Linked DNA regions of Homo sapiens: region 1 is linked to region 2. The links come from fine-mapping of genetic effects on gene expression. A gene starts in region 2. The other region holds a variant in brackets. All regions are shown on one strand. Distances are from middle to middle.

Region 1 (5,320 bases), 210 kb before region 2:
GAAGCTTCATCTGTATGTACAGCCACTCCCCACTGCTCACATTACCACCTGAGCTCTGCCTTCTGTCAGATCAGTGGTGGCATTAGATGCTCGTAGGAATGCAAACCCTATTGTGAACTGCGCATGCAAGGGATCTAGGTTGCATGCTCCTTATGAGAATCTAATGCCTGATGATCTGTCACTGTCTCCCGTCACGCCTTGATGGGACTGTCTAGTTGCTGGAAAACAAACTCAGGGCTCCCACTGATTCTACATTATGGTGTGTTGTACAATTATTTCATTATATATTACAAGGTAATAATAATAGAAATAAAATCCACAGTAAATGCAATGTGCTTGAATCATCCTGAAACCACGTCCCCTCCCCAGTGGTCCGTGGAAAAATTATCTTCCCCAAAACTGGTCCCTGGTGCCAAAAAGGTTGGGGACTGCTGCTCTAGGGGTTGGGGAGGGCAGAGGGCTTGGGCCATCACCAGGCAGGTTTTATAGCAGATGGTGGGGGTGCCCTGCCTATAGCTCCTCTAAATAACGACTCTGGTGCACACTAGCCAGCTTTGCCAGTGGCCGCCCCTCTGTCTTTCTGCCTGAGGACTCTAGCTTGTCACTGGTGCCTCCTTTGCCAGCCTCTGGCAGGCCTGAAGGGCTGGAGAATGAACACATCCTTGGAGCAACCTTCAACCAATGACTGATAAATACCCCCACTCCCACAGCCCGCATCCCTCACCCCTCGGGTGGGATAACTCAGAGGTGCGTGCTCCACACTGACTCCCAGGGCCGCCCAGCAGGGCTGAGCCTCAAACACCCTCCCCATCTCCCTTCCTCATGCCCCTACCAGTGCTTCCTGGGACCACTTCCCATATGAACCACTTGCACTCAAACCCTTGTCTTAGAGTCTGCTATTGGGGGAACCCAAACTAAAACTGGCCTCTGTACAGCAGGTTGAGAGGCAATATAGCATGGTGGTCAGGGACATAGGCTTTGGAGCCAGAGTGCCTGGGCTCAAGCCCTGGCCCCACAGTTTCCTTGGGCAAGTGACTGAGCCATTCTGTGCCTCTATTTCCTCATTGATAAAGTAGGCGTTGTCGTAGCACACACCTCATCGAGTGGTGTGGAGGGTTAAAGAATATGACACAGTTAAAGTGAGTCCCCAATAAATGCTGTTATTTCTAAGAGCATCCAAATGTAGAGGAAGTGTGCCCCTGAGGACTGAGCACACCCTGCTTTTAGCCTGTCCTGCCCCCAGCTGAAGGTGAAACCTTGGCCGCCTGCCCTCCTGAAGTCCCGCCACTGCTGCTGGGGGTTGGCCAACTCCGCTACCGACTGTCTCTGCTCTCTAAGAATAGGTTTCCCTCACAGATGGCATCTCTCTGGATGCTGCTAGAGCATCTGGTGCTTCCAACTGCACACTCCAGGGAGGAAGGCAGTGTGGTCTGTGCCGGGGAGCAGGGCTCTGCCTTCCAGCAGATCTGAGAGGAGTCCCATTTGGCTCCTTCCTAGCTGCCCTCCATTCTCTAAGACCTGTAAAACAGGGATGGCCAGAGGGCTCTTGTTGCACAGTAAGTGCTATGCTTCCTAAATGCTAGTTCCTGAAATAGAATGGTTTAACCTCTACTTACTAAACACCTGCTACAATCCTGTTAATTCTTTTGACATGTAAGACTAAAATAAATAAATAAATAAATAAATATATATGTGTATATATTTTGAGATGGAGTCTCGCACTGTCGCCCAGGCTGGAGTGCAGTGGCGCGATCTCGGCTCATGGCAAGCTCCTCCTCCCAGGTTCATGCCATTCTCCTGCCTCAGCCTCCCGAGTAGCTGGGACTACAGGCGCCTGCCACCATGCCCGGCTAATTTTTTCATTTTTTTTTAGTAGCGATGGGGTTTCATCATGGTAGCCAGGATGGTCTCGATCTCCTGACCTCATGATCCGCCCACCTCAGCCTCCCAAAGTGCTGAGATTATAGGCATGAGCCACCACGCCCAGCCTAAAAAAATATTTTTTTTTTTTTTTTTTAGAGAAAAGAGTTTAATGAACCCCATGTACCCAACGTCCAGTTCCAACAGTTATCAAGATGTTGCCACATTTGCTTCTGTTCCTTTTTTCTTTGTTTTTTTTTTTTTTTCCATTGATCACTCTTGGGTGTTTCTCGCAAAGGGGGATTCCGCAGGGTCATAGGACAACAGTGAAGGGAAGGTCAGCAGACAAACAAGTGAACAAAGGTCTCTGGTCTTCCCAGGCAGAGGACCCTGCGGCTCTCCGCAGTGTCTGTGTCCCTGGGCACCCGAGACTAGGGAGTGGTGATGACTGTCAACGAGCATGCTGCCCTCAAGCATCTGCCCAACAAAGCACATCCTGCACCGCCCTCAATCCACCCAACCCTGAGTGGACACAGCACATGTTCCAGAGAGCACAGGGCTGGGGGCAAGGTCATAGATCAACAGGATCCCAAGGCAGAAGAACCTTTCCTACCACAGAACAAAG[T/C]GAAAAGTCTCCCATGTCCACCCCCCTCCACACAGACACAGCAACCATCCGACTTCTCAATCTTCTCCCCACCCTTCCCCCTCCTCTACTCCACAAAACCACCATTGTCATCATGGCCCGTTCCCAATGAGCCGCTGGGCACACCTCCCAGACGGGGTGGCGGCCGGGCAGAGGGGCTCCTCACTTCCCAGTAGGGGCGGCCGGGCAGAGGCGCCCCTCACCTCCCGGATGGGGTGGCCGGCCGGGCGGGGGGCTGACCCCCCCACCTCCCTCCCAGACGGGGCGGCCGGCCGGGTCGGGGGGCTGACCCCCCCACCTCCCTCCCGGACGGGGCGGCCAGCCGGGCGGGGGCTGACCCCCACCACCCTCCCGGACGGGGTGGCTGCCGGGCGGAGACGCTCCTCACTTCCCAGATGGGGTGGCTGCCCGGCGGAGGGGCTCCTCACTTCTCAGACGGGGCGGCTGCCGGGCGGAGGGGCTCCTCACTTCCCAGACGGGGCGGCTGGGCAGAGACACTCCTCACCTCCCAGACGGGGTCGCGGCCGGGCAGAGGCGCTCCTCACATCCCAGACGGGGCAGCAGGGCAGAGGCGCTCCCCACAGCTCAGACGATGGGCGGGAGGGCAGAGCCGCTCCTCACTTCCTAGATGGGATGGCGGCCGGGCAGAGACGCTCCCCACTTTCGAGACTGGGCAGCCAGGCAGAGGGGCTCCTCACATCCCAGACGATGGGTGGCCAGGCAGAGACGCTCCCCACCTCCCAGACGGGGTGGCGGCCAGGCAGAGGCTGCAATCTCGGCACTTTGGGAGGCCAAGGCAGGCGGCTGGGAGGTGGAGGCTGTAGCGAGCCGAGATCACGCCACTGCACTCCAGCCTGGGCACCACTGAGCACTGAGCACTCCGTCTGCAATCCCGGCACCTCGGGAGGCCGAGGCTGGCGGATCACTTGCGGTCAGGAGCTGGAGACCAGCCCGGCCAACACAGCGAAAACCCGTCTCCACCAAAAAAATACGAAAACCAGTCAGGGGTGGCGGTGCGGCCCGCAATCGCAGGCACTCGGCAGGCTGAGGCAGGAGAACCAGGCAGGAAGGCCGCAGTGAGCCGAGACGGCGGCAGCACAGTCCAGCCTTGGCTCGGCATCAGAGGAAGACCGTGGAAAGAGAGGGAGAGGGAGACTGTGGGGAGAGGGAGAGGGAGACCGTGGGGAGAGGGAGAGGGAGAGGAAAAAATATATTTTTTTTTAAATTCTTTTTTTTTTTTTTATTGATCATTCTTGGGTGTTTCTCGCAGAGGGGGATTTAGCAGGGTCATAGGACAATAGTGGAGGGAAGGTCAGCAGATAAACAAGTGAACAAAGGTCTCTGGTTTTCCTAGGCAGAGGACCCTGCGGCCTTCCGCAGTGTTTGTGTCCCTGGGTACTTGAGATTAGGGAGTGGTGATGACTCTTAACGAGCATGCTGCCTTCAAGCATCTGTTTAACAAAGCACATCTTGCACCGACCCATTTAATCCTGAGTGGACACAGCACCTGTTTCAGAGAGCACAGGGTTGGGGGTAAGGTCACAGATCAACAGGATCCCAAGGCAGAAGAATTTTTCTTAGTACATAACAAAATGAAAAGTCTCCCATGTCTACTTCTTTCTGCACAGACACGGCAACCATCCGATTTCTCAATCTTTTCCCCACCTTTCCCCCCTTTCTATTCCACAAAACCGCCATTGTCATCATGGCCCGTTCTCAATGAGCTGTTGGGTACACCTCCCAGACGGGGTGGTGGCCGGGCAGAGGGGCTCCTCACTTCCCAGTAGGGGTGGCCAGGCAGAGGCGCCCCTCACCTCCCGGACGAGGCGACTGGCCGGGCGGGGGGCTGACCCCCACCTCCCTCCCGGACGGGGCGGCTGGCCGGGCGGGGGGCTGACCCCCCCACCTCCCTCCCGGATGGGGCGGCTGGCCGGGCAGAGGGGCTCCTCATTTCCCAGTAGGGGCGGCCGGGCAGAGGCGCCCCTCACCTCCCGGACGAGGCGGCTGGCCAGGCGGGGGGCTGACCCCCCACCTCCCTCCTGGACGGGGCGGCTGGCCGGGCGGGGGGCTGACCCCCCCACCTCCCTCCCGGATGGGGCGGCTGGCCGGGCAGAGGGGCTCCTCATTTCCCAGTAGGGGCGGCCGGGCAGAGGCGCCCCTCACCTCCCGGACGAGGCGGCTGGCCAGGCGGGGGGCTGACCCCCCACCTCCCTCCTGGACGGGGCGGCTGGCCGGGCGGGGGGCTGACCCCCCCACCTCCCTCCCGGATGGGGCGGCTGGCCGGGCAGAGGGGCTCCTCATTTCCCAGTAGGGGCGGCCGGGCAGAGGCGCCCCTCACCTCCCGGACGAGGCAGCTGGCCGGGCGGGGGGCTGACCCCCCCACCTCCCTCCCGGACGGGGCGGCCGGCCGGGCGGGGGGCTGACCCCCCCAACTCCCTCCCGGACGGGGCGGCTGGCCGGGCGGGGGGCTGACACCCCCCACCTCCCTCCCGGACAGGGAGGCTGGCCGGGCGGGGGGCTGACCCCCCCCCACCTCCCTCCCAGACGGGGCGGCTGGCCTGGCGGGGGCTGACCCCCACCTCCCTCCCGGACGGGGTGGCTGCCGGGCAGAGACGCTCCTCACTTCCCAGATGGGGTGGCTGCCGGGCGGAGGGGCTCCTCACTTCTCAGACGGGGCGGTTGCCAGGCAGAGGGTCTCCTCACTTCTCAGACGGGGCGGCTGGGCAGAGACGCTCCTCACCTCCCAGACGGGGTTGTGGCCGGGCAGAGGCGCTCCTCACATCCCAGACGGGGCGGGGCGGCGGGGCAGAGGCGCTC
Region 2 (5,320 bases):
TTATTATGGAAGTAAAGAAACAAAGGAAGACTACTTCATAGGCAGAAGAGCCCCCCAATTTTTTCAAATAAAAAGTCCTTTCTGGTCAGGCTTGGTGACTCACGCTCGTAATCCCAGCACTTTGGGAGGCTGAGGTGGGTGAATTACCTGAGGTCAGGGGTTCGAGACCAGCCTGACCAATATGGTGAAACCCTGTCTCTACTAAAAATATAAAAATTAAGGCCGGGCGCAGTGGCTCATGCCTCTAATCCCAGCACTTTGAGAGGCTGAGGCAGATGGATCCCCTGAGTTCAGGAGTTCACGACCAGCCTGGCCAACATGGTAAAACCGTCTCTACTAAAAATGCAAAAAATTAGTCAGGTGTGGTGGCAGGCGCCTGTAATCGCAGCTACTCTGGAGGCTGATGCAGGAGAATCGCTTGAACCTGGGGCGGGGGGAGGTTGCAGTGAGCCGATATTGTACTACTGCACTCCAGCCTGGGCAACAAGAACAAAACTCCGTCTCAAAAAAAATAATAAAATAAAATAAAATAATTGGCCGAGCGTGGTGGCATATGCCTGTAGTCCCAGCTACTCCGGAGGCTGAGACAGGAGAATAGCTTGAACCCAGGAGACGGAGGTTGCAGTGAGCCAAGATCACACCCCTGCACTCCAGTCTGGGCGACAGAGCAAGATTCCGTCTCAAAAAAAAAAAAGCCTTTCATTTTACAGAGATGCTGTACCTTTGCAAGCCTAAAAGAGTAATCACTATCCGCCTCTTTAGTTGGAAATTTCATGAGGAATGGATCAAACCATCAAAAGCAGTAACTGCAAGCTGGGTGTATCTACTTTTTCTATCTTCAATCCAACATTTAATGGGTGCAAAAAAAAAGAAGCGTAAAGCCTCCCTTTCACGTGTTTAAGGACATCAGCTCTGAGACTAGTACTCAGAGTACCTTCTGTTACTCAGTTTCATCCTCTGCAAAATGGGCATCCTCAAATAATGTCTTACTTAGGATGTCATCAAGATTAAACAATTAAAAAAACATGCAAAACATGTTTATCTGTTTCCTCATTTACTATGTCTCTCCCTCTCCTAACTAAACTCAAAACCCCAGTTCGGTCTATCTTGTTTATTGTATTCCCAGGGCCTGGAATGGTATTTTTAAACTTACTATATGATTTAATAAATATTAAGTGAATAGAATGCAAAATGTCTGGTGCTCAAAAAAATGTTGGCTATTATAATTACAATAATGAAAAACAATTAAAATTTTATTGTTCTTATTCAGAGAAGCCACCCCTCCCCCAAGGATCTCACACATCAAGGAGGAACACTAGATAAATACTGGAATGGCTAAATGGAAGTAAGAATAACAATTAGATCATGGAGCAGGACTAACAGACAACAAAACAAAATCTTAACACGGCTAGAGCCTAATTTCGGACTTTTCCGAGTGCGGTGCACACTGGATCAGATTAATAAAGGACGATTACAATAATGACAGTTTTCACAATTGTGTGTGTGCCACGGTCGGTGTCAAGCGTTTTACTGGCCTCACAAAACCCAAGAACCCTGGGGGAGGGAGGGAACCCGCTCCACATCCCCATTTTGCAGATGGGGGAACTGAGGCACCGGGAGAGCCAAGGTCACTACCTAAATGGGGAAGCCTGGATGTGAACCCAGGTAGCCAACTACTGAGCCTGCGCTCAAACAGGCCCTCCGAGGGGCCATTCTCATCTCCTCCAACCCTCAACATCGGGCGGGTGTAGTATTTCCCCAGGAGCCGGACTTCGTGGCCCCAGCGCTGGGACAACAAAATGATTCTTGCCCGCCGGCAAGTCCCATGGACGCCGGCCCGGCCTAAGTTCCGAGGCCGCGGGCCCCACAATTTCCCTCACACCGTGAGCCCCGAGCTCTTCGGGCGGCGCAGGAAGCGACGGGGTGGCCTCAGGAGCCCGGGAAGGCCCGCCCCGCTGCGTGACCTTGGATCCGCCGCCCCGCTTCGGGCCTCAGTTTCCACTCCCGGCCTCGCGCCCGGGGCACTCGGAATCACCGCGCCTGCGGAGCCGCAGGCCCTCACACGCCCCCCTCGGCCGCCCGCATTCACGCCCCACTTACGCTGGAAGGCGGCCGCTCCAGGGACGCCTACCATCGCCGAGCGCCGCCGCCGCGCGCCGCCCGCCTCTACCCGCGACACGGGTCCCTCGCAGGCGCCGCCCGCCTCGACCCGCGGCCCGGGTCCCTCGCAGGCGTCGCCGCGAGATCTGCAGCCGCCGAGCTAACCAGACACCACCACCGCTGCTGTCGCCGTCGCCGCCGCCGCCGCCGCCGTTAGGCCGCGCCCCGCCCCGCCCCCGGCTGGCCCCGCCCCGCCCGCCGGGCACGCCCCCGCCGCGCGCTCTCGCCGCCAGGCCAACGCACGCGGAAGCCCGGCCCCAAGACCAGCTCCCATTAAGCACCGCCCCCTAACCTGACCCGCCCCTTCCGCGGGAACCGACCGCCGAATCCCGGCGCAGCCTGCTTCTCAGACCTGCCCCCTCGGCGTCACGCGCGCCCGTCACGCGCACGGCCCACTTTCTAGCTCCAGACTTCCCGGTGTAGCCAGGGCAGTGGCCCAGGCTCGGGGGCCGAGTGCTAGGGGGAGGGATTACAACGAGTGGCAACGTCTCACCTGAGTTCTCCAGGTACAGGCCTGATGGCTTTTGCGCATGCCTTTGAGCGAGCCCCCTGGCTCAAAGTGTTTTTGGCCTGAAGTATTCTAAATGCCTAAAATTTCATCATCGTAATTTTAATAACTGTTGGCCGGGCGTGGTGGCCCACGCCTGTAATCCTAGTACTTTGGGAGGCCAAAGGAGAGTCACTTGAGCTCAGGAGTTTGAGACTAGCGTCTCTATTAAAAAAATAAATAAATAAAAATAAAAAATAGACCAGGCACGGTGGCTCAGGCCTATAATCCTAACACTTTGGGAGGCCGAGGAGGGTGGATTACCTGAGGTCAGAACTTCGAGGCTAGTCTGGCCAATGTGGCGAAACGCTGTCTCTACTAAAAATACAAAACTTAGAGCCGGGCGCAGTGGCTCAAGCCTGTAATCCTAGCACTTTGGGAGGCCGAGGCGGGAGGATCACGAGGTCAGGAGTTTGAAGACCAGTCTGGCCTATAAGGTGAAACCCTATCTCTACTAAAAAAATAAATAAATAAAAATACAAAAATTAGCCTGGTGCGGTGGCGCGTGCCTTTAGTCCCAGCTACTCGGGAGGCTGGGGCAGGAGAATCACTTGAATCCGGGAGGGGGAGGTTGCAGTGAGCCGAGATCGGAGCCATTGCACTCCAGCCTGAGCAAAAAGAGCAAAACTCCGTATCAAAAAAACAAAACAAGGCCAGGAGCTGTGGCTCACCCCTGTAATCCCAGCACTTTGGGACGCCGAAGCTGGCAGATCACAGCTCAGGATTTGGAGACCAGCCTGACCAACGTGGTGAAACCCCGTCTGTACTAAAAATACAAAAATTAGCTGGACTTGGTTTCACAAGCCTGTAATCCCAGCTAATCAGGAGGCTGAGACAGGAGAATTGCTTGAACCCCGGAGGCGGAGGTTGCACCGAGCCAAGATCACGACACTGCACTCCCACCTGGGTGACAGAGCGAGACTCCCTCTCAAAAAACAAAACAAAACAAAACAAAAAAATTAGCTGGGCGCGGTGGCGGGTGTCCATAATCCCAGCTACTCGGGAGGCTGAGGCAGGAGAGTCGCTTGAACCTGGGAGGCAGAGGTTGCAGTGAACCGAAATCGCGCCACTACACTCTAGCCTGGGCAACAGAGGGAAGCTCCGTCTGAAAAGAAAAGAAAAGAATAAAGACTCTTGTTTCTCAGTATTATTTCAGATATCTCACACCAAGAATATAGAATGCATTTGTATTTTACTTGTGTATTGAAAACAAATTTTAAAAGACAGAATGTAGGCCGGCCGGGTACAGTGGTTTATGCCTCTAATCCCGGCACTTTGGGAGGCCAAGGCAGGTGGATCGCTTGAGTCCAGGAGTTCAAGACTAGCCTGGGTAACACGGGGAAACCGCGCCTGTACAAAAAATACAAAAATTAGCCAGACATGGTGTTGCACACACGCTTGTAGTCTCAGCTACACAGAAGGCTGCGGTGGGAGGATCATATGAGCCAGGGAGTCAGAGGTTTCAGTTACCCCAGATCAGACCAATGTACTCTGGCCTGATCTAACAGATCAGGCGTGAGTAACAGAGTGAGACCCTGTCTCAAAAAAAGAAAAAAAAATGTAGAAATAAGAACATATGTGCATATACCAGCTGGGTATAGTGGTTCACACCTGTAATCCTAGCACTTTGGGAGGCTGAAGTGGGCAGATCACAAAAGGTCAGGAGTTCGAGACCAGCCTGGCCAACATGGTGAAAACCTGTCTCTACTAAAAATACAAAAGTTAGCCAGGAGTGGTGGCGTGTGCCTGTAGTCTCAGCTACTCAGGAGGCTGAGGCAGGAGGATGGCTTGAACTTGGGAGGTGGCAGTTGCAGTGAGCCAAGATCATGCCACTGCACTCCAGCCTGGGCCACAAAGCAAGACTCTGTCTCAAAACAAAACAAAAAAAAAAAAAAGAGAGAGAAGAAAAGAACATATGTGGCCAGGCATGGTGGCTCATGCCTGTAATCCCAGCACTTTGGGAGACTGAGGCAGACAGATCACCTGAGGTTGGGAGTTCGAGACCAGCCTGACCAACATGGAGGAACCCTGTCTCTAGTAAAAATACACAATTTGCTGGGCACATGCCTGTAACACCAGCTACTCAGGAGGCTGAGGCAGGAGAATCACTTAAACCCGGGAGGCAGAGGTTGCAGTGAGCCGAGATTGCGCCATTGCACTTCAGCCTGGGCAACAAGAGCGAAACTTCATCTCAAAAAAAAGAAAAGAACATGCATGTATATATATACTCTTTAAAGTGCCATGAGCACTGATGAAGAAAGCCCTCCCTAGAACGTTTTTGGAAAACACAATAAAAGGTACCAATGTACTCAGAGAGTCCCAGGAAGGGTCTCTAAACCACAACTAAAAGGCTATGAGGAATTCAGATGGGGTTAACAGCCCAGCTGAAATTTCACTTCCTTTGTGAAAATCTCTCCAATGCTCCTATCAAAAAATAATTTTCAAGACTGGGCAATAAAGTGAGACCTCCTTTCTACAAAAAATAAAAAAATTAGCAAGGCATGGTGGTGCACGCCTGTAGTCCCAGCTACTCAGGAGGCTGAGGCAGGAGGATTGGCTTGAGCCCAGGAGGTCAAGGCTGCAGTGAGCTGTGATCCGACCACTGCACTCCAG

Alleles and levels. Alleles are on the strand shown, and positions count from the first base shown. SD is a standard deviation of normalised expression in the study named.
For the expression in skeletal muscle of the gene that starts at base 2,306 in region 2, allele T in region 1 goes with a higher level than allele C (small effect, 0.18 SD a copy in GTEx).

What was found. PIP is the estimated chance that this variant, and not a neighbour inherited with it, causes the effect. A credible set is the group of variants that fine-mapping cannot tell apart.
Region 1: its variant is the best candidate, but not a certain one, in a credible set for the expression of CBFA2T2 in skeletal muscle (GTEx, PIP 0.83).

Annotation. Positions count from the first base shown.
Region 1 is chr20:33,699,123-33,704,442 of GRCh38, reverse strand. PXMP4 (peroxisomal membrane protein 4) reads left to right here. Exons shown (of 4, transcript NM_007238.5): 4 at 1-1,685. Among named protein-coding and RNA genes, the nearest start is that of E2F1, 15 kb to the right of the region's middle. RefSeq lists enhancers at 3,155-3,866, 3,867-4,577. The variant T/C (reference allele first, on the strand shown) is at 2,486.
Region 2 is chr20:33,487,082-33,492,401 of GRCh38, reverse strand. CBFA2T2 (CBFA2/RUNX1 partner transcriptional co-repressor 2) reads right to left here and starts at 2,306. Exons shown (of 11, transcript NM_001032999.3): 1 at 2,101-2,306. The coding sequence starts at 2,134. RefSeq lists silencers at 1,987-2,266, 2,277-2,496 and an enhancer at 2,591-3,139.